Linked DNA regions of Homo sapiens. The protein of the gene in region 2 purifies or fractionates together with the protein of the main gene of each other region. This does not show direct contact. Each region holds a gene or a part of one and is shown on either strand. Other genes may lie near its edges. The genes, in order: PLOD2, XPO7, POLK and HK1.

Region 1 (7,364 bases), on a different chromosome or scaffold from region 2:
AAAGGGCAGGAAAGATAAATCAGGGTATGAACCTGATTTACTGGCACTGATTAAGAAGGTTCTGCCTCTGAAAGCTCCCATAAGGATATAATTTTCAGGTAACAATTCCTATACGTTATTTTCAGAGAAAATGATTATTTTAGCCAAAATCTTATTTAGTCTTTCCATGCTAAGAATAAAGTGGCAACCAAAAGGAATCAATACAGCACACAGAACTCTCAAAAATTTAACAAAAATCTATGTTCTCAACTCTGGTCAACAAAGCACCAGAGCTAGGAAAAACTACACTCCAAAAATTGATGAATGTGTATCACATTCCCAACTACAGTGGGTAAACTGAAAATCACTATAAATATTTGTTTTCAAAAATAATTTGCTGTTATCATTCCAGTAACACTATAATGCCATATTGCCTCAAATACAAATAGATTAGTCTAATCCAGGGATTCTTAACCCTGGGCAATTTTGTCCCTCTGGGGACATTAGGCCTTTTTTGTTTTTTTGGTGCTCAGATTAGAAAGGTTATACTACTGGCATCTAGTGCACAGAGGTTAAGGATACTGCTAAACATCAATGCACAGGATAGTCCCTCAAAGCAAAGAAGTGTCTGGCTCAAAATGTCAATAGGGCCAAGAAATTGTGATTTAAACCATTTCTTCTTGGTTAGCTGGGACATGTTGACAAATATACAGGGTTAGAGATGATAAGCACTCTTCTTAAAGAACTATTAAGCTAGACAATTTAGGGTCCTATAGAAGATCTTGATATTTATGTCAACGAATAAGCTTCTATTTAGTAATTTTCAGTTGAAACTTGTAAAGAATAAAATAGACCACAGTCCATGATTCTGCCCACTTTATCAAGCAGTTTACCTCTACATTTATTAGTTTATCACATAACCTATGAGAACACCTACCTACACCGAAATTTGTAATCAAACTGACTACTGCTGGCTTCACCTATCACAAATTAGTATTTTCCCACATTTCGACCCTAACCGAATTCTCCATGCCTGCTTACCAAGTGACCAGTCCTCAGATTTAAACAGTGGGTTTCATGTGGTCGTTTCCTGAGGAAACTTTCATACCTAAAATTCTCTTTCTCTGATATCACAATCCATTAAAAGTTTACTGTCCAGTTCCATGAAATTTAAAATCCAGAGTGAGAAGGGAATTTGATTTTGACTATAAATATAAAGGCAGATACAAAGGGATGTCCTCTATTAAAAAGTTAGGGGTGTTGGCAATGAAGTGGAATAAAATATACAAAGGCCAAAGAGGCCTCTCTAAATATTACAAAGTCCTTAGAGGTTATTTTATTTCCCAGTTAAAGTCTCCTTGGGTGTTTCAACAAAGAAAGACATTTTTCTGGGGAAGGCTTTTTGTTCTGTTTTTCCTTTTTAAATTTCTCTACTTCCAAATTTGCTGAAAGTATTTACTTTCTACTTTCCAGATATTATGTTAGAAGAAATATTTTTAAATTATGCAAAAGTTTAGTTCAAATTTAGAGGAATCACACGGGTTCAGAAATCCATTTTTAAATGGTCACATATACCTAACAGAAAGAAAAGCATCCTGTAACTGATAGAAATCCATCTGAATGCTGAAGTTTCTCAAGCTAACAAAGCAAGCACTGTTTTGTAGAAAGATAGGCAGTTCAGCCTGCTGACGCTTTCTGAAACACTTAAAGATGAAGACAAAACTATCGCTACATGGATTAGCTGGACTGCAAACCAAATGTCACTTTCTGAATGTAACTCTGAAATAGAAATTTCTGTCCTTAGGCTTAAGAAAAGTTCAAGTAGAAAAGCACTCTATTATAAACTTGGGGGAAAAAATGGTGCCAAGATGACTTAACAAAAAACAAAACAAAACAAAAAGGACATTAGAAGGTCATTTAAATGCAAGATCTAATTTCAGAGAGTTGAGCACAAAGAGCACAAATGTGGAAAACTCCAAGGATTTTTCATGTGCCACAAAAGGCAGCAAAGCATGTTTAGACAGACGTGGTGAAACTCTCTTTAATCTGGCTAAATATAAAACGTTTTGTTTTACACAGCTTCTGAAAACGAGAGACAGCACCGGGCTCAAGAAAAGGGTAGGTAAGGGGAGCAGCTGTGTGTCCACAGCTTCCCCTTCAGATCCCAAAGGAAGAAAGCTGCCGCCTGGAGGTACTGGGTAGCCAGGCAGCCTTACTGAAAACAACTAAGGTTTTCGAGCGAGCGTTGTTTTTGGCAAGAGGGAGGTGTTACCGGCTGCTTCCTGGGGTGCTGGAAGGAATGTGTCACCATCAATTAGAAAGTACACTAAGCCCCGTGTTTAGGTCACAGAAGGAGTACTGCCTCGTCCATCAAGGATAAATCCATGCCAACTCTCGGAAAGGAGGGGAAAGGAGAGCTGCAGGAAAGGTGTTGGTGCCCATGACCTGCAAGTCCAAAAGGAAACTCCAACTTGTTCTGCAGGGAAATTCGGGCACGCTGAGTTCACCGAGAACTCCAAGGAGTCAACGAGGGCGGGTGCCCCTACACTTCCCCAGGGACCAGCGCCGCCCGACCGCAATTCTGGGGAAGACCCCGGCGGTCCTGGAGAGGAGGGACAGGCCCCCACTACTCACCTGGCCAGCCCCGCGGAAGGGCTGGTGGATGAATGAACTGCCCCCCCGCCGGCCGAGCCTCGCGGGACAGCGGCGGACCGCGGGGTGCTCACCTGTGGGGATGCTCGAGGGCTTCTCCGAGTCCGCACCCAGACAGGGATTCCAGGGGTGGAGGACGAGCGCCAGGAGCAGCAGCTGAGGCTTCACCGTGCATCCCCCCATATTCGGCCCTCGAGGGCCGCGCGGGCTCAGGCGCCCACGGCCCCGCAGCGCCGCGCTTCTCGCGAGAACGCAGAGACCCGGGTCCGCCCTGAGCCGCCGATTGCGGGCGGGAGCCGGCGGGCAAGGCGCGCGGCCGGCAGCCGGAGCGGCGCGTAACGCAGCTGAGTGAGGTCGTCGGTGGAGGCACGGAGCAGCAGGCGCCCGGGGCGCTGCGGAGGCCTTATAGGCTCCCCGAGGGGAGGCGACGGGGCGGGCCGCGCCCTGGCTATTGGCCGCCGGCTGACCCGCCGCCGCTGCGCGCCCGGTGCGGTCGCCTCAGCTCGCCCTCCTGGGCCCCACGTCTGGACTGTTTGCTCAGCGCGGACGCTATTTAAGGAGCTGCCTGCGGCTACGTGTGGAGGCTCACGCAGCGCTTCTGGCTGGAACGGGGAAGCCTGCACTTAGCTTTGGGAGTGGGTTTGGGAGAGGGAGGAGGAGCCGCCGGGAGTCTGGCGGGAGGGCGGTGTTCCCGTCTGGGTTCCTCTCTGCTGTCCCAGCCCCGGTAGCTTCCACAGCAGCCTCGAAGGGTGAGAATTTGCTCTTCTATGGACTTGGATACTCCACCCAGTCTGAAGTGACTGCAAATCTGCGGCAATCTTGGCTGACTGGGACCTCGCCAGACTCTTAAGCCATGGAAATGGATCGCCCCTCATTAATTCAGGGGCAGGTTCATCACCCTGTAAAAGGAAGGCCGTGATTTTATTTTACTCCGTAAACCGAAAGTTTTATTGTCCAGTGAACATTTCTTGCTCCGCCGCTTGTGCCAAGAGAGCCTTAGACTCTTTCCAGTAATGAGGCTTGTAAATCCTGCGGAATCGGAGCCCAACGTGTGTAATGCCGGGGCTGTGCTTACAAGATCGTGCTCCAGTCCGCATGGAAAATTACTCCCAAAGACGTGGTCGGAGAGGTCGAGATCTCTGAGCCTTGGCCCCCACTGCTTCCACTTTTGACTGATGTCTAAGAAAATTCCCTTTTTTCTGTTCTCACATTTTAACTAGCCAAGGGTTTAACTTGTTGGAATGAGTGGGAGCAAAAGCACAATTAAGAAAAAAGCTTGACAGTTTTGCCTCATACATTTAATGACATAAGCTATTTTATAGGAGAAAGAGAACCAAACTGCTACCATTCTGGAATCTCCTGCCTAAATTTTCGTGAAATTAGAAAAAAACAGAATCGAGACAACACCCGTTATAACTCTGGGCCTTTGAAATTAAGACAGAAAATTATGGAAAAATGTGTTCCATTATGATCACGTTTTGTCTAAAATTAACATATCAAGATAACATGAACTTAATGCTTTCATCTTGATAGCATTAAAAACAGGTGGAAAACCCTGCAAAGAAATCTTGCCTGGGATGTGACATTTTAGAAAGAATCATTTCCTGTGCCCAGAACTAAGCCAGTTATTACTCTGTTTTGAAGGTTTGGTCTCAGTTTTTTAAAAGAAGAGGAAAACTGGAGAAAGTTCTGAGAAGAGTAACAAATAATTAAAGAAGTGGAAACTATGACCTGTGAGAAGAATGAAATAAGGTTTATTTAGTCTGAAGGGGAAAAAAAAAGCTAAAAGATGGATTCCTTAATAACAGCCTTTCATGTGTGGCAAGTACAGCTTCATAAAACTAGGCACAAAGCAAACAGCATCAGTCCTCTGAGTCCAAGGACTCTGCTAGGAATGGCTGGTGTTTTGGCCAGATCTGTCTCCAGAAAGCCAAACCTGCAATTGCCAAACTCCTTGAACTTGACTTCTTGCTTCCTTGGTTCTCCAGTATCTTTAAGAACTTGGAGAGCTACAACCTGGCTTCCTGCCCTCCCAAACCCCCGTTCCCCTCATGAATGCTTACCGGCTTCTCTGCATCACAGGTGTGTGTGTGTGTTTAAACTCCAAAAGTCCACTAATAATTTCAGGTTATTTTGACATTCTTCCTTCTCTGTTAAGAGTCACAACATCTGTGCTGTGAGACTCGTATAAAGCAAGTGTTGGGATTTTCAAATACCTAGACATTTCTAACAGTCTGAAAGAGCCCCAATTCTCAAACCAAATCCTTCCTGCTTTCTTACATTTCCAGCCATCTGCTGAACATTTCTACTTGGATGTTCCATTGGCAAAAACTCGATATGTCTTTTTTTTTTTTTTTTGAGACAGTCTCGCTCTTTTGCCTAGGCTAGAGTGCGGTGGTGCGATATCCCCTCACTGCAAGCTCCCTCCGCCTCCCGGGTTCACACCATTCTCCTGCCTCAGCCTCCTGAGTAGCTGGGACTACAGGCGCTCGCCACCAGGCCCGGCTAATTTTTTTTTTTTTTTTTTGTATTTTTAGTCGAAACGGGGTTTCACCGTGTTAGCCAGGATGGTCTCGATCTCCTGACCTCGTGATCCGCCCGCCTCGGCCTCCCAAAGTGTTGGGATTACAGGCGTGAGCCACCAAGCCCGGCCTGATATGTCTTTTAACTCATCAAATCCAGATCCCACTCGGCTCCCTCATCTCTGTTGATACTACTGCTCTCTAACTCATATGGCCTCAGACATTTTTACTTCTCTCTTTCCATCCCCCACACCCGCCAACTCACAGAGCCGGACTCCAAATCTTGTCATTTTTTCCCTTCATGTTCTCTCTTCATCTATTCCTTTCCATTCTCACTGCTACCTCACTAACTAATGCACTCTTGAGTGTATCCTATGCCATTTCCTGTAGACTTTCCCTACCACCAGTGTAATACCACTATATACCACAACTAGATTAATCATACTCAGATATCCTTTTGATTGCTTCATCCCCAAACAGATTTCATAACAGATTTGGAAACAATCCACATTCCCTAACCTAGTATTCAGATTCCTTCATGCCAAACTAAACCCAACCAACGTAGTTTGCTTTATTATCTCCTAAAGCAGACCAAATACTTTGTCACTTTAATTCTCTAAAGTTTAGGTAGGAATCATTTGGGTTCCTCTGAAGCCCAAGCATGAGCCCAAATTCAGTGACTAGCGGTTTGTGGAGAGTTTTGAGAAAACCAGATAGGTGAAGCTAAAATGACACAGGAAAGGGAAAATATCCAATTAAATCAACCACAGTGGGTAATGGGAGCTTAATCCCACAAAATTGATGTACTATATATCACTCAAAAATATCCTGGTCAATGGGTCAGAGAACTGGGATATATATTCCCAACACCTATCAGTCATTGACTTAAGGGCTGAGGGACACTCATTAATTCCCAGGCATTCCCAACCTGCTATGGTAGCAGCCACTCTGATGATGTAACTCTTGATCATAAGAAGTCAGGGTGACATGCTCAGAAATGGTAAGGAAATTTGAGGAGAAATGAGAGAAGCAGCATTTGCTCAGCAACCATACCTTTGTTCATGTTATCCCTATATCTAAAAAAAAAAAGGATGACAAAACCTGTCCTCCTTCCTTCATTGGGCTAATGTCTGTCAAGCTCAAGTGCCACCTCCTACAGGAAGCCCAACTGGGGTAACTTACCCTACCTCAGGATGGGTTTAGATGTCCCTGTTCCATGATTTCTAACTTCTGAAGCAAACCTCTCTCATTTGTGACAGGGTCTTTTCTTAGAATTATTATTAGACAGTGTGTCTGTTAAGGTCAGGATTCAATTATTTTTCATCATCAAAGAGTAAGTACCATAGTAGCACATTTGTTTATTCATTGATTCATTCAAAAAATATTCCATGACTACTATATCTCAGGCATTGTTCTAGATAGATATTGGTAAAAACAAATTTATTAGTGACAGAAAAAACAAAAATCTACTGTGCTTTAGTTTCAGGTGAAACAGAGATAAACATATAAGGTAATAAGTGGTAGAGAGAAAGTAAATCAGGAAAGGTAACTGGGAAGGACCAATAAGGAGGGGAGGTATACCAAAACCTTAGTAAGGGATCCTGGGAAAGCCCCACTGAGAAGACGATTCTTGAGCAAAGACCTGAAAGTGGTGAGAAAAAGAGGGGGCCAGGATGTACAGGGGACCTGTGTTCCAGGCAGAAGAAACAGGAAGTGCAAGGACTGTGAGACCAGAAATACCTGGAGTGTTGTGAGGAAGCAAGAGGGCAATTGAATGTTCAGTGACTGTGCATAAGAATAGTAGGAGATGAAGCCTGAGAAGGTAACAAGCAGGGCGGAGGCAAGCAGATAAACAGACAGTGTGATAAGGGTAGAACCTAGTAACAGCTTTGTCCTTTACCCTGGATGAATTGAAAAGCCATTTGGATGGTTCTAAGCAGAGCAGTGACATGATCTGAAGTAGGATTTAAAAAGGATCACAGAGTCCACAGCTGCCACATTAGAGGAAGATAAGGGAGAGTGAGTGGAGAAATAAAACAGAAAGTCTGTAGACCTGTAGACCAACTTGAAAGCTAATGCAGTGGTCCAGGAGAGAGATGACGGAGGCTTTAAGCAAGTCAGTAGCAGTAAATGAAGGTCAATTTCCAGATAGATTTGAATGTAGAGTCAACAAAATTTGATGTCTGAATGTGGGCGTAGGAGAGAAAAAGG
Region 2 (7,031 bases):
ACCAAGTGCAGTAAGTCCTTCAGAAATGGAAGAGAGAATATACATGATGACGTGAGGTTCCAGGCTTGCAATAAAGTTCATATGGTCCTGGGTCAGGACTTCCAGTAGTGAATAATAAGACTGGCTGAGCTTGGGGTAATCCTGTGGGAGAGGAAGAGGAAGAAAATCAGCTTAGGCACTATGCACTCCAGCATGCAGGGAGACGATCTTAAATAGCTTAGCTCCTTTTAGGTGGGAAAACAGAAGACTTAGTTAGAGCAAAAGGAGCTAGCTTACATAGTTTCTCAAGAGCAGTGTTCAATCTTGGTCTCAGGTGAAAAAGGCTGAATGTGATGAGGAACAAGATTGTGGCAATGCAGCGTAAGGCTTACCAAGAGATCACTGTGAGGAATAGAGAGGAGCAGCTTGATGAAGGTCTGCAGAGCATTGTCCAGGGCATCGTCTCCATAGAGACGAAAGACTCCGAAATTGACGTAACTCCCACTGAGAGCAGCCTTCAGCATGGAGAAGCAGATGGAGATGCCCTTGAGCTTCAGAGCATAGACCTGATCCTTTGGGACCTCTCCTAGTGTCAGGATGCGATTGCCTGAGTAGACATGTCATATATGTTTATTCAACCACATTAGAAGCGCTCGTTTAGATCAGCCTTCCTACTCCAAAGGCATACAAATTCCAGTAGGCCCCTGGTGACAGGTGGCACTCTAATGCACATGTATTAGCATACAATACGAATGCTGTCCTGGCTCCTGCCAGGACTGGCCAGAGACCCACATGCTGCTTACAGTGTGGTGACTGAGCTGGAATTAACTTCTAGAGGCATGATTATCTGAAGCACTTACCATACATTGTTATCATCTTGCTGGTTTCTCGGAAGAGTAAGATGCCATTGGGGGAAGAGACATCAAACTGGAGTCGCTGGGACCTGAGCAGAGAGCACAGGAGGAGAAAAAGTCAGAGGTGTTTTCTTGGAAGACTGGGGTACTTGAGGCTCTCATCTGAGTACCTTGGGTGATCCTGCATTTACATTAAGGTAAGCAATTGCCTATCCTAATATGAGAATAACCAAGTTATAGATATTTAACCATGAAGTAGCTTCTATATTGAAGACCAACATGCTAGATTCAGATTCTGCTGCTCAAATTAAAAACATTTATAAGAAAAAAAAAGCAGCAGTAGATAAAATTACTATTTGAAAATTCTCAATTTTATTTGATTAAAGTATACTTTCTTTTTTTTGAGATGGAGTCTTACTCTGTCGCCCAGGCTAGAGTGCGGTGGCGCAATTTCGGCTCACTGCAACCTCTGCCTCTCGGGTTCACACCATTCTCCTGCTTCAGCCTCCCAAGTAGCTGGGACTACAGGTGCCCGCCACCACGCCCAGCTAATTTTTTGTATTTTTAGTGGAGATGGGATTTCACCATGTTAGCCAGGATGGTCTCGATCTCCTGACCTCGTGATCCGCCCGCCTCAGCCTCCCAAAGTGCTGGGATTACAGGCGTGAGCCACCGTGCCCGGCCTTGATTAAAGTATACTTTCTACCCGTCGCCTCTTGATACTAATGCAGAGCCCTTCAGCCATTAGTTGGCATGGACCTTTATGGCTTCAGTGGCAACTGAGGGAGAGGGGCCAAAGCATTGTTACCATTTTATATGAAGAAAAGATGCATAGGGACTTGGAATGGTCCAAAAGAAGCCAGACAGAGAAGGCCATTTGTAACCATCTTGGTTTTAAGTTCCTGACTCTTTTGTCTGCTCCACATTTTGATGAGCTTTATTAGATTCAAGTTGGTAAGACCTCAAAAGCCCAGGAGTCCTTCCTCCTTCCTCCCCCCCACCACACTGAATCCATCAACATCTAACTCTAAAATAAACCCCAAATCCACCTTTCCCTTACATTCTCTCTGCTTCTACTCTTACCTGCCTTTAGTCCCATTCTTCACATGGTAGCCTTTAAAAAACTTAAATGAGATCATTTTAATCCTTTGCTGAAAACACTCTAGCGGCTTCCCACAGCAATGAGAATAAATGCCCACTCCTCACTACTGCTGTGCGAAGGCACTAGATGATCTGGCTCTGCTCACTGGTCTGACCTGCTCCCACAGCCTCCCCCCACCAACCAGGCTCCTGCCACAAGTCCCAGCAAGCCTGTCCTATCTCAGGACTCGTGCAGATGTTTTCTGTTTAGAAGACTCCTTATCTTTGCAGGGCTACCAGAATCTTTCTTGTCATTTAGATCCTAGTTAATATTACCTTCTCTGAGAGGTCTTCCCTGACCCTCCTGTCCTTCAATTCCCCTCTATTTTACTGCCTTGTTTTATTTTGTTTCATGGCACTTAATCACTGGAAAGATCTTCCATACTTGTTTTTATTGTGTGTCTTCCCCACCATTTGTAACATCAAAGAGGGTAGAGATTTTGTCTGGCATAGTGGCTAGGAAAGTTTGGCAAAGAGTAAGTGCTCTCAAGTATCTATTTTATAAATGAGTAACTCTTGAATATAAGTCTCCTGGGAGGTTATAGCCTCTTTAAATATTACCCACTCCATAAGGTTGTTTTAAAACTTATTAATTCTGCTAGGCCTGGTGGCTCACGCCTGCAATCCCAACACTCTGGGAGGCTGAAGTGGGCGGATCACCTCAAGTCGGGAGTTCAAGACCAGCATGACCAACACGGAGAAACCCCGTCTCTACTAAAAATAGAAAATTAGCCGGGCGTGGTGGCGCATGTCTGTAATCCCAGCTATGTGGGAGGCTGAGGCAGGAGAATCGCTTGAACCCAGGAGGCGTTAAGTTGCAGTGAGCCAAGACTGCGCCACTGTACTTCAGCCTGGCGACAAGAGAGAAACTCCGGATCAAACATAACTAACTAAATAAATAAATAAAATAAAAATAAAGAAAAAAAACCTTACTAATTCTCTCAGGACCGCCATGAGAGACCAATGCCCATACCTGAAATTCTAGGAAAGCTAAGGTGCTAGACTTTTCTTTTTCACTGTCCTTAAATTGTTTTGAAAATCTTGCTCACTTTTTAAAAGTAAATTTTTATTGATCCTGCCACAACCTCTCTAATAAATACCTTTCTTAAGAAAGGGTATTCTAATATCTATCATATCCTTCTCAATGTCTCTAACCATGAAATGTGATGGACAAGGCACCATTACCAGATGTTAATTTCTTATCTGTGGGCAGGAAATCAGAATCTTGGTTGCCAAATTTACTTCTCCTAAGAGTAGACATCTGGAGATTCTTTTTATTTTACTTTTTTGAGACAGGGTCTTGCTCTGTCACCCAGGCTGGAGTGTAATGGCATAATCTTGGCTCACTGCAACCTCTGCCTCCCAGGCTAAAGCAATCTTCCTACCTCAGCCTCCTGAGTAGCTGGGACTACAGTTGTGTGCCACCATGCCCAGCTAATTTTTTGTAGAGGTGGGTTTCACCATGTTGCCCAGGCTGATCTAGAACTACTGCATTCACGCAATCTGCCCACTTCGGCCTCCCAAGAAGCTAGGATTACAGGCATGAGCCACCATGCCCCACTGGAGACTCTTTTTAAAAGTGACTTATTAGATGGGCGCAGTGGCTCACGCCTGTAATCCCAGCACTTTGGGAGGCCGAGGCACGCGGATCACGAGGTCAGGAGATCGAGACCATCCTGGCTAACATGGTGAAACCCTGTCTCTACTAAAAATACAAAAAATCGGCCGGGTGTGGTGGCGGGTGCCTGTAGTCCCAGCTACTCCGGAGGCTGAGGCAGGGGAATGGCGTGAACCCAGGGGGATGGAGCTTGCAGTGAGCCGAGACTGTGCCACTGCACTCCAGCCTGGGAGACAGCAAGACACCGCCTCAAAAAAAACAAGACAAACAAACCAAAAAAAGTGACTTATTTCCTGCAGTTGACTATGGTTTTGTGTAGTTAGGAATACTATTCTTTCACACAAACAAAAACACAAAAACTTTTCGAATTTTAAAATGCAGTAGTGAATCTTATTATTTCCCACAATCTGCCCAAAGCACTAGATACAGCAAATTCTCTCAGATAACAGGGCAGATGTGCCCTTGCAAGCTCTGCCTCCTGCTTACCTATTATGAACCAATTCAGCCATCAACTTGAGTACAGGTGTAGTACAGGCTGGATCATGGTACCAGAGCTCAATTGCCCGTTGGAGAATTGGCATATAGGATGGATATCTGTAAATGAGAAGCTAAGGAAAGATTTCTGATTCCAGAAAGGTACAGAATTTAAAATAGTTTTTCAGCACTAGCCAAGCAAAAACTTGTCAAACTACAGTTCTTTAAGTTCCTGTCTCTTGCTTGCTAATCTTGGAGTCTTTCTAACCAGAAGATACTAAAGTGATTTTGTGTTCTTTAACCTGTGAAAGGCATCTCATAATACATTTTAGTTTACATAGGGCCTTTCTTCTGAAGAGCATGATGTATTTCATACTGTTATTTGTCCTTTCATCACTTCTATGGTATTATATGGGATCAGCTCATTTCCTTTACATAACTATTAAAGAGGCACCTGGATTTGAAATAATCTTCACAAGGGTATGAAGTCAGTAAAGTTAGACTTCCTAATTTGTAAAAGCTGTTTATTATTATTATTATTATTATTTATTTTTTTTTGAGATGGAGTCTCGCTCTGTCGCCCAGGCTGGAGTGCAGTGGCGCGATCTCGGCTCACTGCAAGCTCCGCCTCCTGGGTTCATGCCATTCTCCTGCCTTAGCCTCCCAAGTATCTGGGACTACAAGCGCCCGCCACCACGCCTGGCTAATTTTTTGTATTTTTTAGTACAGACGGGGTTTCACCGTGTTAGCCAGGATGGTCTCGATCTCCTGACCTCGTGATCCGCCCACCTCGGCCTCCCTAAGTGCTGGGATTACAGGCGTGAGCCACCGTGCCTGGCCTTTTTATTTTTTTCAGCAGACTGAAACATCTCTCTAAATATAGCAAAACCAACAGTTCTACAGTGGTATATGGTTCCACAGGCATTTATATTTGAGATCCAAAAGAGAAACTGGGAGACTACTTCATTCATGTTCTAATCTCAGACAACCTTATGTCTGTCATAAGGTGGCTTCCAGGACACATGCAGGCCTTCTGGCTAACTCTTCATCTTCTCTGCCTCACTACCCTCCCTTCCCCCTACACCGTCTCTGGACCCTATCACCCAATCACACTCCAGTTAAGGCAGGCTGTAGTGTGCTCCTAGTTTGAGTTAGGATACATCCATTCAAAGAGCATCATGAAGCTGGTCTTGGCATTGAAAGCGAAAGCGATCCCTCTCAGGTCTCTTACTAGGCCAACTAGAGTTCGCTGTAGTAGAAGGCAAAAATGTGTTAAAATAGAAGAAAAGACAAAACTGTAACAATCTGATGAGGATTCCACACATGTATCATCAAATTCTTTCTCTCACAGTTCAACATATACTCCTTCTCAAATATTCGGATTCAATATCTTCTATGCTAGAATGGCATATTTTCATTCTAGCAGTGGAAGTTTGTTTTGGAAGTTTGAAGTTTGTTAGCTTTGGAAGTTTGTTATGCCAAGAAAATTAGCTTTGGAAGTTTGTTTTGCCAAGAAAATACGTTCCTGGTTCGTAGCAAAAATAGAGGCTGATAAGGTTTTAAGACATTGAAGTAATACATCACATGTAAAAAGTGAAAAAGCTTTGAGTCCACCCAGGGAGGAAAGGAGGGGAGGGAGGGGGAGAGAGGGTGGGGGGCGGAGAGAGAGACAGAGAGAGAGAGAGAGAGAGAGAGACACGGCAAAGAAACCAACTCAAAAAGCCAGAAAAAAGCAAAAAAGAAAAACAGAAGTCCCAAAGAAGAAGAGGTAGAAGAGCCATATATACCCTAAAGGAAGTCAGATGCAGGCCCTGCCAGGAGGAAGACAAAGGGGAGTCTACACAGCACCTCTCTCTTTGGGTGGGCCATCTAGATAAGACTATGTTTAATCAGTACTCTCCATTTGCAGAAAAAGAGACTGAGGCTTAAAGAGGCCAAAAAACTTCCCCCAGTCATGTTGCTAGGTAGCAGGAGGGTCCAGATCAGGACTCATACATAATACCAAGACTCCAAATCCAATACTCACTCTCTCAATAAAACTTTTACTTGGGACATGAACAGCAATAAAACTACTATAAAAATCATAGTTTGGGGGTTGTCTCCAAACGTGGAGACAGAACAACAACAACAACAAAATGTGCTCAAGAAGGTTGTACATTTGGGGATCTTGACACGTTTGGCAAAAACGACATCACTTCTGTTAACAGTCTGCTTGTAAGCAAACAGTTCTCTCCTAAGCTGATACCACAAGCTCAGTTTTCCAGTCTAAGACTTGGTCAGTCTCTTAAAAGACTTTACATGGGACATGACAAAGAAGTGGGTGACAGCTGTAGTCCATTACCAAGGTTGTTCTTTTGGTTAATTTTACTTGCTTTACATGAAACTAATACCATATAATGGGAAAAAGGGCTGATATTCACTGATATCCCTAAATCCTTGATATTGGTTGATACTCTAGCCTAAAGTTGGTAATATGTTCCACAATAACCCAAGCTTTGAATGGTACCTATCTCAGACTCTAAAATACAAGTATAATTAGGGGAGAGAGGGTTGCATTAAGTGTTGTTGCTTTCTGTCTACCCTGCTGATTTGTAGATGGAAAAAGAAAAGGCTAAAGATGAAAAAGGAGAGCTTTAGAATGCTAGGTAAAGCCTGGCATTTTTTTCTGGCAATACCCTGGCTAGCTGGTAGTTCTACCATTCAGCCTTGGTGCCCTGAGGAATACTGTAAAAAGTCCTACCAATAGTAACATCCTGGTGTCTTCTGATTTGGACACAGATCTATACAGGTCAAGAGAACAGTATGTATGAAGTAAAAAGATGAAGAAAGCAACAATCAAGAAATGACAATTCTAAGAGCTAGAAAACAAGAACTTAAAATTCCATATATGTGGAAATTCACTGGGCATCGTGTCTCGTGCCTATAATCCTAGCCACGTGGGAAGCTGGGGCAGGAGGACTGCTTGA
Region 3 (4,632 bases), on a different chromosome or scaffold from region 2:
ATTAGCCCCGTTTGATAGAAAAGGATTCTGAGGCTTGAAGACGTTGGTGGAAGAAACAGAACTTGCCCCTAACGAGCATGACTTCTAAGAATGTGTTGTCAAGGGCGTGACTCACTCACCTTGCTCTACAGCAGGGGGTCACTTTGCTCCATCCCCAGGCCAAATCCCGCTGCTGCCTGTTATTGTAAATAAAATTTGTTTTAACACATTAAAAAAAAAAATTCCTGCAAAATCTACAAGCCCCAATGAACTCCCAGCTCTACTCTACCACTTCTTTGTATAATTTTGAGAAATGTCAAGGTTGAATTTATAACTAACACTATAGGAACTTCAATATTAAATCATTTCTAAATGGGCTTCCAACATTTTCTTTTGAATAAAGTAAGACTTGATTTCTCATTTGAAGACCATGAATTTTAATCTTTCCTGGCGGATTCTTTTGAAAAGTGAAATAATACAGAAGCAAGTCAAATTCTGACCCCCCAAATAAACTTCAAATAAGAAAGGTAATCAGGTTTTCATTTATTTATTCTTCTTACAAATTTACAAAAGATGTATCATTTTAATGTAAATTATGTAATATCAATGTTCATTTCAAACTTGTCAGTTTTTCCCTTCAAATTATTGTGCACCAAATTTGAGGCATTAAATTCAAAACAATGTTTCCTAATCAATGAAAAAACAAACATGACAAAATATTATTTATTTTATCAGAACACCGCCCATAACCTCAAACTTTCCTCTTTTAAAAAAGGGAAATGGGCCTAATGTTTGTAATAGAGATATGATAAAAACAATAGCAGGTAAGTTGAATTGAGTATTATGCAGAAATATCAGACAATGTACTAATATGGAAAGTATAATATGTAAATGGAAAAACAGGGCACCAAATTATATGTATATGTAGCATGTTTACAAGTAAAATTCTAAAAATCAAAAGAAAATACCCACACAAAAGAAGGAATAATAGTGAAAACAGCAGCAGATCAATGGAAAGCATACAGCCAAGTACAGAAAAATCTCCCAGTCTGGGTAACAAAGTGAGACCCCCTCTCTACAAAAATTAGCCAGGCATGGTGGTGCATGCCTGTAGTCCCAGCTACTTGGGAGGCTGAGGTGGGAGGATGGCTTCAGCCTGGGAGGCAGAGGTTGCAATGAGCCAAGATTGTGCCACTGTGTGCCAGTCTGCGTGATAGAGCCAGACCCTATCTCAAAAAAAAAATTTTTTTTTAATATAAATAAAAAATAATTTTAAAAAAAGATCTGAATTGTGTTATCCAAGTTTGAAACTGCTTTCAAATTCTAAACCAAGAAATTTACTTTTAAAAAAATCCTCTTATCAATGACAGGAGAAAATGCATCATCATTTTATGCTATATAGCCTTATAATAGTATGTGGTACTTATCTTACTCTAACAGATGAGACAAAAACTCCAAAGCAGTGCATTATGTGAAACTTAGCCATAGCTGGACTTTATTTCCCTGACAGCTTGGGCTAAATAAGAAGCTATGAAGTATACTGTGGGAGGTATTTTCTTTTTCACTCTGTTTCAAATATCAGGTTAGTTCTCAAGCAGAATATTAATTCTAAGCGTGCTAATACATAAAAGCTTGCCCACATGATCTGGCCCTACTCATCTCTCTGATCTTGGGCCCTACAATTCTTCTCCATTCTTCATCCACTGTTTCCTGGTGGAGAGCCATCAGCTTCTATTTCCTCCCTTTGCCTAGAACTTCTCTCCCCCACCTCCACTTCCGAATTTTTAAAATAGTTTTGATCCTTCGTATCATTAAGGTTTCAGGTTAAATGTCACTTCCTCAGAGGAGCCTTCTCGGATCATCTTATTCTAAAAGTGTCCCCTACCTTCATGTTCCATTCCCTTATGCTGTTGTCTCTTTCCTTTGTAACACTTACCACTGAAATGTCTATTTGTTTAGTGTCGGTTTCCACAACTAGAATGTAAACTTCATAAATACAGTGATTTTTAAAACTTTGTTGGGCCAGGCGTGGTGTCTCATGCCTATAATCCCAGCAATTTGAGAGGCCGAAGTGGGAGGATGGCTTGAGGCCAGGAGTTTGAGGCCAACCTGGGCAACTTAGTGAGACTCCAGTCTCCACAAAAAATTTAAAAATTAGCTGGTGGTGGTGGGGCAGACCTGTAGTCTTAGCTACTTGGGAAGCTGAGATGGGAGTATGGCCTGAGCCACGGAGGTCAAGGCTGCAGCAAGCTGTTATCATGTCACTGCATTCCAACCTGGGTGACAGAGCAAGACTCTGTCTCAAAAAAAAAAAAAATTAATTAAGTTTCTTACTGCATCTCCAGTGGCTAAAACAGTACCCGACCTGCAATAAGTATTTGTCAAATAAATATGGAATGCAATTTAGCCATGGGAACAGTAACTTGTCTTTGAGTCCTGAAAGCTTTAAGTTTTTCCCCTAAAGGTCTAGACTAAAAAAATATGTTCAATTCTGAAGTAAACCTTTAAAACCAGGTCCTGTTCAAGGATTCCATATTTTTAAAAACATCTTCCTAGATTTCTCTTTGCCCTCCTCTACCAGACGATTTCTCCCTAGACTCCCACTTTGTATATTCATCTATTATAGCCCTCCCTACATTGAATAGAAACTGTCCCTGGGGTGGCTCTCCATTTTTTGAGGACAAACATGTCTTAATAATCTTTATGTCCTTTATCAGCTAGGATTCAGCTATAATTAATAGGAAAACCCAAGTAACTATGGCTTAAACAATTTTTTAATTTGTTTCTTGTGAAAGTCTCAAAGTGTGCAGGCCAGTGCTGATATGTCTCTGTTTTACAAAGCCCCAAGAATCAGCCCCTGCAGCCCACTACTCTACCATCCCCCTGTGCAACCCTTATGTTCAGGTGTAAACGGCAGCATCTGCTTCCAGGCAGCAGGATGGAACAGAGAAATAGAAAGAAGAGGCAAACAGAATGCTACAGCTGCAAGAAAGGAAGGTTCCCAGAAGCAACCACACACAGTACTTCCTTTTTTTTTTTTTTTTTTTGAGACAAGGTCTCGCTTTGTCACCCAGGTTGGAGTGCAGTGGTGCAATCTCAGCTCACTGCAACCTCCGTCTCCCGGGTTCAAGCGATTCTCTTGCCTCAGCCTCCTGAGTAGCTGGGATCACAAGTGTGTGCCACCACGCCCAGCTACTTTTTTGTATTTTGAGTAGAGACGGGGTTTCACCATCTTGGCCAGGCTGGTCTCGAACTCCTGACCTCAGGTGATCCACCCGCCTTGGCCTCCCAAAGTGCTGAGATTACAGGCGTGAGACACCGCACCCGGCCAGTACTTCCTTTTATATCCCATTAGTCAAAACTCAGTCACATGGCTACCCCTAGCTGGGAGGGTGTGAGCTTCAAGGATGGGAGATACATTGTAGTCATCAATTCTGTAACACCTATTTTTCACATTATCACATCTTTTTAATTGAGATACTAAGTTGTCTGCCTGAATTGAAGTTGAGTTCTTCCATAGAGGATTTGCATATGCTTCTGCCAGTCACTAGGGGCAATACTAACCTCACTTTAATTACATTTTCTGCTTGAGCTCTTTAGGATGATACCATTTGTGTGAATTCAGATTACAAGCCTACATGTGTACTGGTTTATGGTTCAAATTCTCACTGGCAGTCCCTCCTTCCAACCAGTGCCAAGGCTGAGCATGCAAATTGCTTTGCTGTGGGGAAAAGCAAGAGAGATCAGATTGTTACTGTGTCTGTGTAGAAAGAAGTAGACATAGGAGACTCCATTTTGTTATGTACTAAGAAAAATTCTTCTGCCTTGAGATTCTGTGACCTTACCCCCAACCCCGTGCTCTCTGAAACATGTGCTGTGTCAACTCAGAGTTGAATGGATTAAGGGCGGTGCAGGATGTGCTTTGTTAAACAGATGCTTGAAGGCAGCATGCTCCTTAAGAGTCATCACCACTCCCTAATCTCAAGTACCCAGGGACACAAAAACTGCGGAAGGCCGCAGGGACCTCTGCCTAGGAAAGCCAGGTATTGTCCAAGGTTTCTCCCCATGTGATAGTCTGAAATATGGCCTCGTGGGAAGGGAAAGACCTGACCGTCCCCCAGCCCGACACCCGTAAAGGGTCTGTGCTGAGGAGGATTAGTAAAAGAGGAAGGAATGCCTCTTGCAGTTGAGACAAGAGGAAGGCATCTGTCTCCTGCCTGTCCCTGGGCAATGGAATGTCTCGGTATAAAACCCGATTGTATGCTCCATCTACTGAGATAGGGAAAAACCGCCTTAGGGCTGGAGGTGGGACCTGCGGGCAGCAATACTGCTTTGTAAAGCACTGAGATGTTTATGTGTATGCATATCTAAAAGCACAGCACTTAATCCTTTACATTGTCTATGATGCCAAGACCTTTGTTCACGTGTTTGTCTGCTGACCCTCTCCCCACAATTGTCTTGTGACCCTGACACATCCCCCTCTTTGAGAAACACCCACAGATGATCAATAAATACTAAGGGAACTCAGAGGCTGGCGGGATCCTCCATATGCTGAACGCTGGTTCCCCGGTTCCCCTTATTTCTTTCTCTATACTTTGTCTCTGTGTCTTTTTCTTTTCCAAATCTCTCGTCCCACCTTACGAGAAACACCCA
Region 4 (7,373 bases), on a different chromosome or scaffold from region 2:
TCAACAGCACCCATTAACCAATTTATGCAGATGCCGTCTGGATAATGGGGTTCCAAGCTGGGAAGTCAGACACCTGAACTGTTTCAACCCAGGATATATTTTTATGGAGTTGAATTATTGATGTGCCTCATAGGCAATGAAGAAAGAAATGACACCATTTTCATGATCACGTTTGGATTCTAAGCAATCCCAAAAACTTCCCCGGCATGGTCCCCAGCTTCCCTTCTCCTACCTCTGGCTCTGAGGGCAAGAAGATAGATGAGAGTTACTGAGGGATGCCAGGTCTGTCTCCAGAGCCCCGGAGGCTGCCTACAGCTGGAGGGCTGAATCATCATGGCTGCCCACGCTGGGGGGGAACCATCCTCAGCAGGTCCCTGCTGGGAGGCAGGCAGAGTCCAGCCCCACAGGAAGAACAGGGGGTCCCGCACCTTCACCTAGCCTTTCCTATGGTGAGTGGTACGTGGAAAGAGCTGGTCTCTAAGAAATCCTGGGCCCCAGAAGAGCAGATGTGGTCCCCAGCATCTGCACACTTGGGCAAAACTGAGTAGGTCACTGGAGCAAGTACCCACTATGTCACTGTCCTTAGAAGGCCCAGGCTGGAGTGCGGTGGCGCAATCATAGCCAGGACCACACCCACAGATGGCTGTGCCACACAGTCCACTATGCAAAATGAGTGGACCCCCTGGCAGGAATCCACGTACTCCCCTATAGAAAGCAGCATAGGAAGTCCGTGGTGAAATGCAAGCAAACATCTTGTTTTTAAGAATCTCCTTGACAAATAATATCTGGTGGAAACCTTGGCCTTAAGACCTTCCTCCAGCAAGGTTCTCGGGGAAGAGAAGGGAAGAACATCAGAATCCCAAACTCGGAGTGAGGAGGGATGGAAGGGTCAACTGAATCACACACTCAGGTACCTACGGGGGCCTAGGAGATAGACTGTGCATCCATAGATGTGAATTGAGCCACCCACAGGAGTGGAGAGCTCTGGGCCCACCCTAGACACTGTATGTCTGAGAAAACATGTCCCACTGAATGGAGTCCAAACCTCAGCCCAGCTCAGCTGCTGGAGGCCACCGGCAGCCAACAGCCAGCAGTCTGTTGTGGGTGGTGGTGGGTGTGGACACTGGAGGTTTACAAGGTCACCCAGGCACCCCCCAGCCCAGCAGCCCACTGTCTTGAGCTATAAAGGACACCACGTGCAGGAGGACAGTGAACTCTTGGCTTCAGGAGGCCTGTTCTGGGCACTTCTTGCCATGCCGGGAGAACTGTCTCCCTGGTCCAATGGGAAGAACATCAGTGATGCACAACACCACTAGAGAAAACTCATGAAATGCACACACCCGCACGCACAGCTCCCAGGTCAGTGGCCAGAGGGAAGCTCCAGGGTGCTCCATAGGAGCAAGTGTTTCGAGTGCCACGGTTTGACAACCCCAGAGTGCTTAAAGCCATAAAGAGCAATGGCAGATGGCATTCCCAAGCCTATCTCCTACCTACCTCACTCCCGGTCCCCACCCACCATGGGATCCAAGATCACGGCAGGGTCCCCAGCGGCTTTGTCTCTCAGTACCCACTCCCTCCTGGAAGCTGACCTCCAGGAGGACCCTGGTGAAGTTCCTGGGTGGAGGCACTGGGAGACCTGGATCCCCCTGACTGGCTCTGCCTCTAACTCACTGGGTGACCTTGATAAGGTCGCTGCCCTCAGTAGGCCTGTTTCCTATGGTGCCAGATGAGGGAGTCATCTTAGATGCACAGGAAGAGGATGGAACACCCTATGGCTTGCCGGGCAGAAAATCAAGGCCTGTCACTCCTGCCTTTCACCTGTAGAACTCCACCTGTCTGAACGCCAAAGTCAAGATGACTTTGCCAGTCCATCCCAGCTAACCCCAGCAATAACGTCACCACGTTCAGGGTGGGTGGGCCTGGAGCCTGTACCAGACCTGGCACTGATAAAACGGGCGTCTTTCCCTACAGCTTAGGCTGTTTCTTTAAAATATGGTAGCACAGCTGGCAGAAGAGACAAATACACCTTTAAGACCTGCCAGCGGACAGTATTTTACACTAAGATGTCAAAGGCAACAACACCTCAGGACAGGAGGATGCATGCGTCCAAGTGCTAGAACAAGCATGCCACAGGCGTCCACCCAACTCAAATGACCAGTCGCTTATTTGAGCTCCTGTGCTGGCTAGAAATTACAGCTTAAGAGGAATAAAAAATTCCATTCAGACGTGCCGCTCCAGACACGAGGCCTATGAGCAAAGTTTCCGGTGGCCTCGCCGCCCCTCCCCGTTCCGGGAAGCCGGGCGGGTCACCTCGTCCTCAGATTAACGAGCAGCTCAAACAACTGGGAGAGCCCGGCGACAGCTTCTCCGGGGCACCCGACACCCTCCGCCAGGAACCCCAAATATGGGAGGCCTGGCCTCCAGCCAGCACCCCCGCCTGCTGCTCGATCACCTCCCCAGCATCTCCATGATCACACCTCCTCCCACGGCGCTCGGACCCTCCCGAACAGGCCCTGCGGAAGGGCCCACCGGCCACCTCCCCGCACAGCCCGGGGGCCTATCTGACATCCAGGGCCCGTTTCAAGGACACTGCAGCAGGCAGCCCGGTCTCGGGGGTCTTCCGCCCGATTGCCCCCCTCCCAAAAACGCACACACACAGAGACACTGACAATGCCGGTAGAATCGAAGGCGAAGGCTTTCCTTGCGCCCTGCAGTCCAACTCGATGCTGGCCCGGAGAAGGCCGGGCGCCGGAGGATGGAGGCAGCGGAGGCGGCGAGCGGATGCCGGAACGCAAGGCTGCGGCCAGGACCAGCGGCGGCGCGGGCGGGGGCTCACCTTTTTGACCTGGTCATCCTTCAGCTCCGTGAAGTAATAGGCCAGGAGCTGCGCGGCGATCATGCTGGCGGTCGGGGTCGCGGGGCGGCAGGCGTGGGGACGGTCGGTCCTCCGCAGCCCTGGCGAGCCGTGGTCCTCCGGCGGCTGCTCGGCGGCTCCTCCTCCTCCTCCTCCCCCGGCTCCTCCCCCTCGGCCCGGGGCGCGGCGACAGCTCGCGCGCTCCCGGTCTCCGCGCTCCCGTCCCCTGGAGGGTGACAGCCGCCAGCCGACCCACCTCCTCCACGCCCATTGGTTGCGGCGCGCCTCTGCAACGCCCGGCGGTGGCGTCCCGGCCGGGGAGCGGGGACGCGGCGGCCGCTCCCTCCTGCGCCGGAAAGGGGGCGGGCGACGCAGCGAAATCCCCCCCGACCCCGCATCATCCTGCACGTCCCCCACGTAGGGAGCCGATGCGGGCCTTCACGCGTGGCGGCGCCGTGCCCGGGTGGGCCGTGCCAGGCGGGGAGGTGCGAGGCGCAGGCAGGAGGCACCGCCCGGCTCCGCCGGGACGAGAAGCCCCTAGGGCTAGTCTAGGGACTGGCAGCCCCGGGGGCACGAAGGCGGTCCCATTCCTCGGAAATGAGGGCTCGCCCCTAGGAGTCCGGTGGACGCCGAGGTGCCGGAGGGGACTTGCAGAAGTGGGCGTGGAAAGCGGGCGGAAGCGGGAGCCGGGGACGCTACGCAGTCCTCGCACCCGGGTCCCGCGCCTTCCTCACCCAGGCCGAACGCACCGGCCTACCTGGGTCTTCAGCGGCAGTGCATCACCTCTCCCCGGCGTGCCCCGCCTAATCTCCAGCTGGCAGATTTGTATTGCTGAACCCAAAGCGACACCCCAGAGCACCCGCCCCCGAGTCACCAGCTCCGGTGGCTCTCCCTCAGGGCGCACTCCCTCTGGGCGGGACTTGGGCCACAGGTCGTGGCCTGTCCCCATCCTCTGGGCCTCCTCTTGCTCTTGGGCATCCAGGCCCACTGGGACTTGGGGCACGGTTCAGCGCCCCTTCCCAGGTGCCGTGTTTTCTACTTTCCCAGAGGAAGTTACGTAGGATGGGAGGACTCCCTAGAGGTGCTACCAGGACAGCCACTTTAGGATTCTTAGATTAATTATTTCTGTGTTCCGGAAGCCTCCAGGAGCTTTAGTGCCTTACAAAATGACATGTAATGAGCTCAAATATACAAACAAGTTGTTGCTATTCTGGTTAGACAGGTAAGGAAATTGAAGCTCAGTGAGGCCTCAGTCTTGCTGGACTTTATACAGCCAGGAAGTTGTAGATCTAGGATCACAGCTTGGATCTGTGAGTCTTTGAAGCAGGTGCTCACCTCTAGGGTTTGCTGTGGTCCCAGTTGTATAGAGCCCCTCTGCCTAAATAGGTCACTTTCCTGCAACCAAGTCTGCACCATATGGTGCCCTGAGATCCAACCCCCAACCTCTACCCTAGCTCTTGACTTTAGGAGTCCCTAGCCCTTGACCAGGCCTAGCAAAGGTACAGTCAAATCAGAGGGAGGGATGACGTAGGTTCAGGGGCCTGACAGCCACCATCACCCACAGAAAAGGAGGAGCTTAGATGCAGTCCTGAGGCCCCAGCTTCCTGTCCAGGTCACAGTCCCCACCCCCTGCCTTAGGGCCTATGCAGAGGGGCATCTTGAATCACCTCTGAGACTGTGTCTTCATCCATAAGATGAAGACACTAATGCCCACCTCACCTCCCCTTGATTGTTGTGTAATACTGTACGCAAAATACGTGCACATAATACACACTTAAGGAATGGCAGGTATCATAGAACTGACTGAAAAGTTAATGCGGTTAAAGCTTCAGGGACTCTCACTTTCATTCCTACCCTTCTAGGCCCTGGGAGGGCCTAGCAGTGTGATATTTGTATATTTATATTTGAATTATTTTCCATAGAGAGTGCCAATTTATTTAATTTTCAAGCCCAACAAAACCTGGATTTGCCCTGGATCATAATTATAAACCAGGAAGAGAGAGATTTTCTGGTACACATCAAACATTTGGAACTACCTACATGGCCGTTAAGCAAAATGGAGTGAATGAGAACAAGATGGTTGTTCTCAACTGCCATTTCATTTGAGTTCTGCAGATCTGCCAAGCTCACAGGGCTGGAAACTCCTTGAGGATGGAGGACTATGTTTTGCTAATTGCTCTGTCTCCTACACAAGCGCAGGGCCTGGCACTTGGCAGGCTGAATAAGCCTAATGCATAATCAAAAACATGGCCCTTAACCCAGCCACCAGCCGGTGCCATCACCCATGCCCAACCCGTTGTTACAACTCCTATCTGAGCTGGAGCCAGGGAGAAGCTGACGCTTGGAAGAGCCAGGTTACCCTGAAATGTCCTGTTTGCAGGCAGGAAAGCTGCCTCTGCTTTGTCTTCCCTGGCCTTTGAGAGGGAAACTGCTTCTCAAGGTGACTCATTCCTCCCCACTCCATGAATGCAACCAGGCCCCAAGGCCTGTCAATATTTCCTGAGAAATGTCTCTAGGCCTGACCTATTGCCACCTCCCAACTCCCAGTCCATCTCCCTGTGCCAGAAATATTACAAGAGTCTTCTAACTGTCCTCCTCGGCTCCTGGCCTCATGCCATCCAAGTCATTCTGAGCACCAGGTCACATTAATCCTGCTAAAATGCAGCATAATCATGTCATGACCCTTCCCTAAATCCCTTCATGGCCCTCTCCTTCCTGAGAGAGCCAATTTAAACATCTCTGCCTGGTTTCCGAGGCCTTCTGTAATCGACTCCACTCTTTCCCACTTATCTCTTCCTCCACTCTGGCCGCAACAAGGCCACTTCCCACCATCCTCTGCCCCCACCATGTCCACTCCATTTGTTCGCCGCTCATATTCCCTTCCTTGCCCTGCCTTCTCCACTCACCTCTGCCTGACCAAGCATCCCCTCTCATCTAAGGCCCAGCTTGCCAACCTTCCCTGGACCACAGCTACTCACCCCAATCTCCCAGGCCTCAGCACCTCGACAGGGCAAACTCAGGCTGTGCTCACAGTCCATCTGGATATACACCCAGACTCCTCTTTACAGGGCAGGAACCTGGGATGCCACAGGTGGGCCATCTTGCCCAGTGTCAGGTTGTGGTAGAGTTTTGAGCCAGGACTCCAGCCTAGTCCTGATGCCCAGCCAGTGCTCTGTCCATCCCACCCCCAACCCCTCATGCAACCTGGGCCTCAGATAAGTAACACTGAGTCATGACTGCCTAACTGATATGGGTGACTGTCTTCTAGGGGGCTGGTCCTATCTGCCCCAATCAGACAGCTTCCTGAGGCCAGGGCCCATGCTGCACTGCTGTGTCCCCTCTCTGTTGTTCCAGTGCTGACTTCACTAATTTCCTTAATAATTTGCCTCTTTTTGCTCTTGCATAGCTCTTAGATCCCTGCTAAGGCTCCTTGACAGTTACTCCCTGGATCCTCAGGAAGACCCCAACCCACAGGGAGTCCTTAGTTCCCTCCCTCTCCAGATGGCCCTCCACTTCCCTTCAAGTCCCCTGAACTCTCTCTACTCATTTACTGTGGTACCTCCTACACAAGTTGGGGTTGGAGTGACCAGTGCCAGGCTGCCACCCCAGGAAACGCACCTGCTTATAAGACAATAAAGGCTGCCTTCTAAGTTGGAATGTCTGTACCAATTCCCATCTGACCCATGGCACTAGGAATGTTACTTCAGGAGTGATCTCCAACAGATAACAGCTGTACCTCCCGCACCTGGGAGCACACTCTGAATAGCAATGTTTACATAACGTTGACAGTTTGCAGAGCAATTTCTCATTTATTGCTTCATTTCTCCTGATAACAGCCTGGTGAGGTTAGAAGGGCAAATATCATTATCTGCACTTAATCAGTCAATGAGGATGTGAAGGTTATAGAGCTTGGGTGTTTTGGTTTTTTTCTTAAATTGAAATGAGGTCTTGCCATGTTGCCCAGGCTGGTCTCGAACTCCTGGACTCAAGGGATCCTCTTGCCTTGACCTCTAAAACTGCTGGAATTGGCCAGGCGCAGTGGCTCACGCCTGTAATCCCAGCACTTTGGGAGGCTGAGGTGGGAGGATCACGTGGTCAGGAGTTCGAGACCAGCCTGGCCAACATAGTGAAACCCTGTCTCTACTAAAAATACAAAAATTAGCTGGGCATAGTGGCAAGAGCCTGTAGTCCCAGCTACTTGGGAGGCTTAGGCAAGAGAATCGCTTGAACCTGGGAGGTGGAGGTTGTGGTGAGCCAAGATTGTGCCACTGCACTCCAGCCTGGGCGACAGAGTGAGACAGTCTCAGAAAAAAAGAAAGAAAAGAAAAGAGAGAAGAGAAGAGAAAAGAAAAGGAAAGAAGAAAAAGAAAAAAAGAAAAAAATGCTGGGATTATAGACGTGAGCCATTGTGCCCAGCCCTATAGAGTTTGTTAAGGTCTCAAAGAGAGCGAAAAAACGAAAATTAAGACCAGTGCCTAAACCATTGGAGCATCTTAGAACCCTGACACTATGGGACTGT

The links.
Region 1: the proteins of XPO7 (region 2) and PLOD2 purify together in Homo sapiens (affinity purification with mass spectrometry; 2 studies listed by BioGRID, with this or other methods). This does not show direct contact.
Region 3: the proteins of XPO7 (region 2) and POLK purify together in Homo sapiens (affinity purification with mass spectrometry; 2 studies listed by BioGRID). This does not show direct contact.
Region 4: the proteins of XPO7 (region 2) and HK1 purify together in Homo sapiens (affinity purification with mass spectrometry; 2 studies listed by BioGRID and IntAct, with this or other methods). This does not show direct contact.

What each region holds. Positions count from the first base shown.
Region 1 is NC_000003.12:146,158,176-146,165,539, forward strand, and holds the start of PLOD2 (procollagen-lysine,2-oxoglutarate 5-dioxygenase 2 isoform 1 precursor), read right to left. Parts: upstream 3,010-7,364; 5' UTR 2,815-3,009; coding exon 2,706-2,814; intron 1-2,705. UniProt on the Homo sapiens protein: Forms hydroxylysine residues in -Xaa-Lys-Gly- sequences in collagens. These hydroxylysines serve as sites of attachment for carbohydrate units and are essential for the stability of the intermolecular collagen cross-links.
Region 2 is NC_000008.11:21,992,646-21,999,676, reverse strand, and holds part of XPO7 (exportin-7), read right to left. Parts: intron 5,315-7,031; coding exon 5,226-5,314; intron 4,186-5,225; coding exon 4,078-4,185; intron 923-4,077; coding exon 840-922; intron 587-839; coding exon 372-586; intron 142-371; coding exon 3-141; intron 1-2.
Region 3 is NC_000005.10:75,605,862-75,610,493, reverse strand, and holds the end of POLK (DNA polymerase kappa), read right to left. Parts: 3' UTR 503-4,632; downstream 1-502. UniProt on the Homo sapiens protein: DNA polymerase specifically involved in DNA repair. Plays an important role in translesion synthesis, where the normal high-fidelity DNA polymerases cannot proceed and DNA synthesis stalls.
Region 4 is NC_000010.11:69,314,474-69,321,846, reverse strand, and holds the start of HK1 (hexokinase-1), read right to left. Parts: upstream 3,001-7,373; 5' UTR 2,900-3,000; coding exon 2,837-2,899; intron 2,784-2,836; exon of another isoform or gene 2,670-2,783; intron 1-2,669. UniProt on the Homo sapiens protein: Catalyzes the phosphorylation of various hexoses, such as D-glucose, D-glucosamine, D-fructose, D-mannose and 2-deoxy-D-glucose, to hexose 6-phosphate (D-glucose 6-phosphate, D-glucosamine 6-phosphate, D-fructose 6-phosphate, D-mannose 6-phosphate and 2-deoxy-D-glucose 6-phosphate, respectively).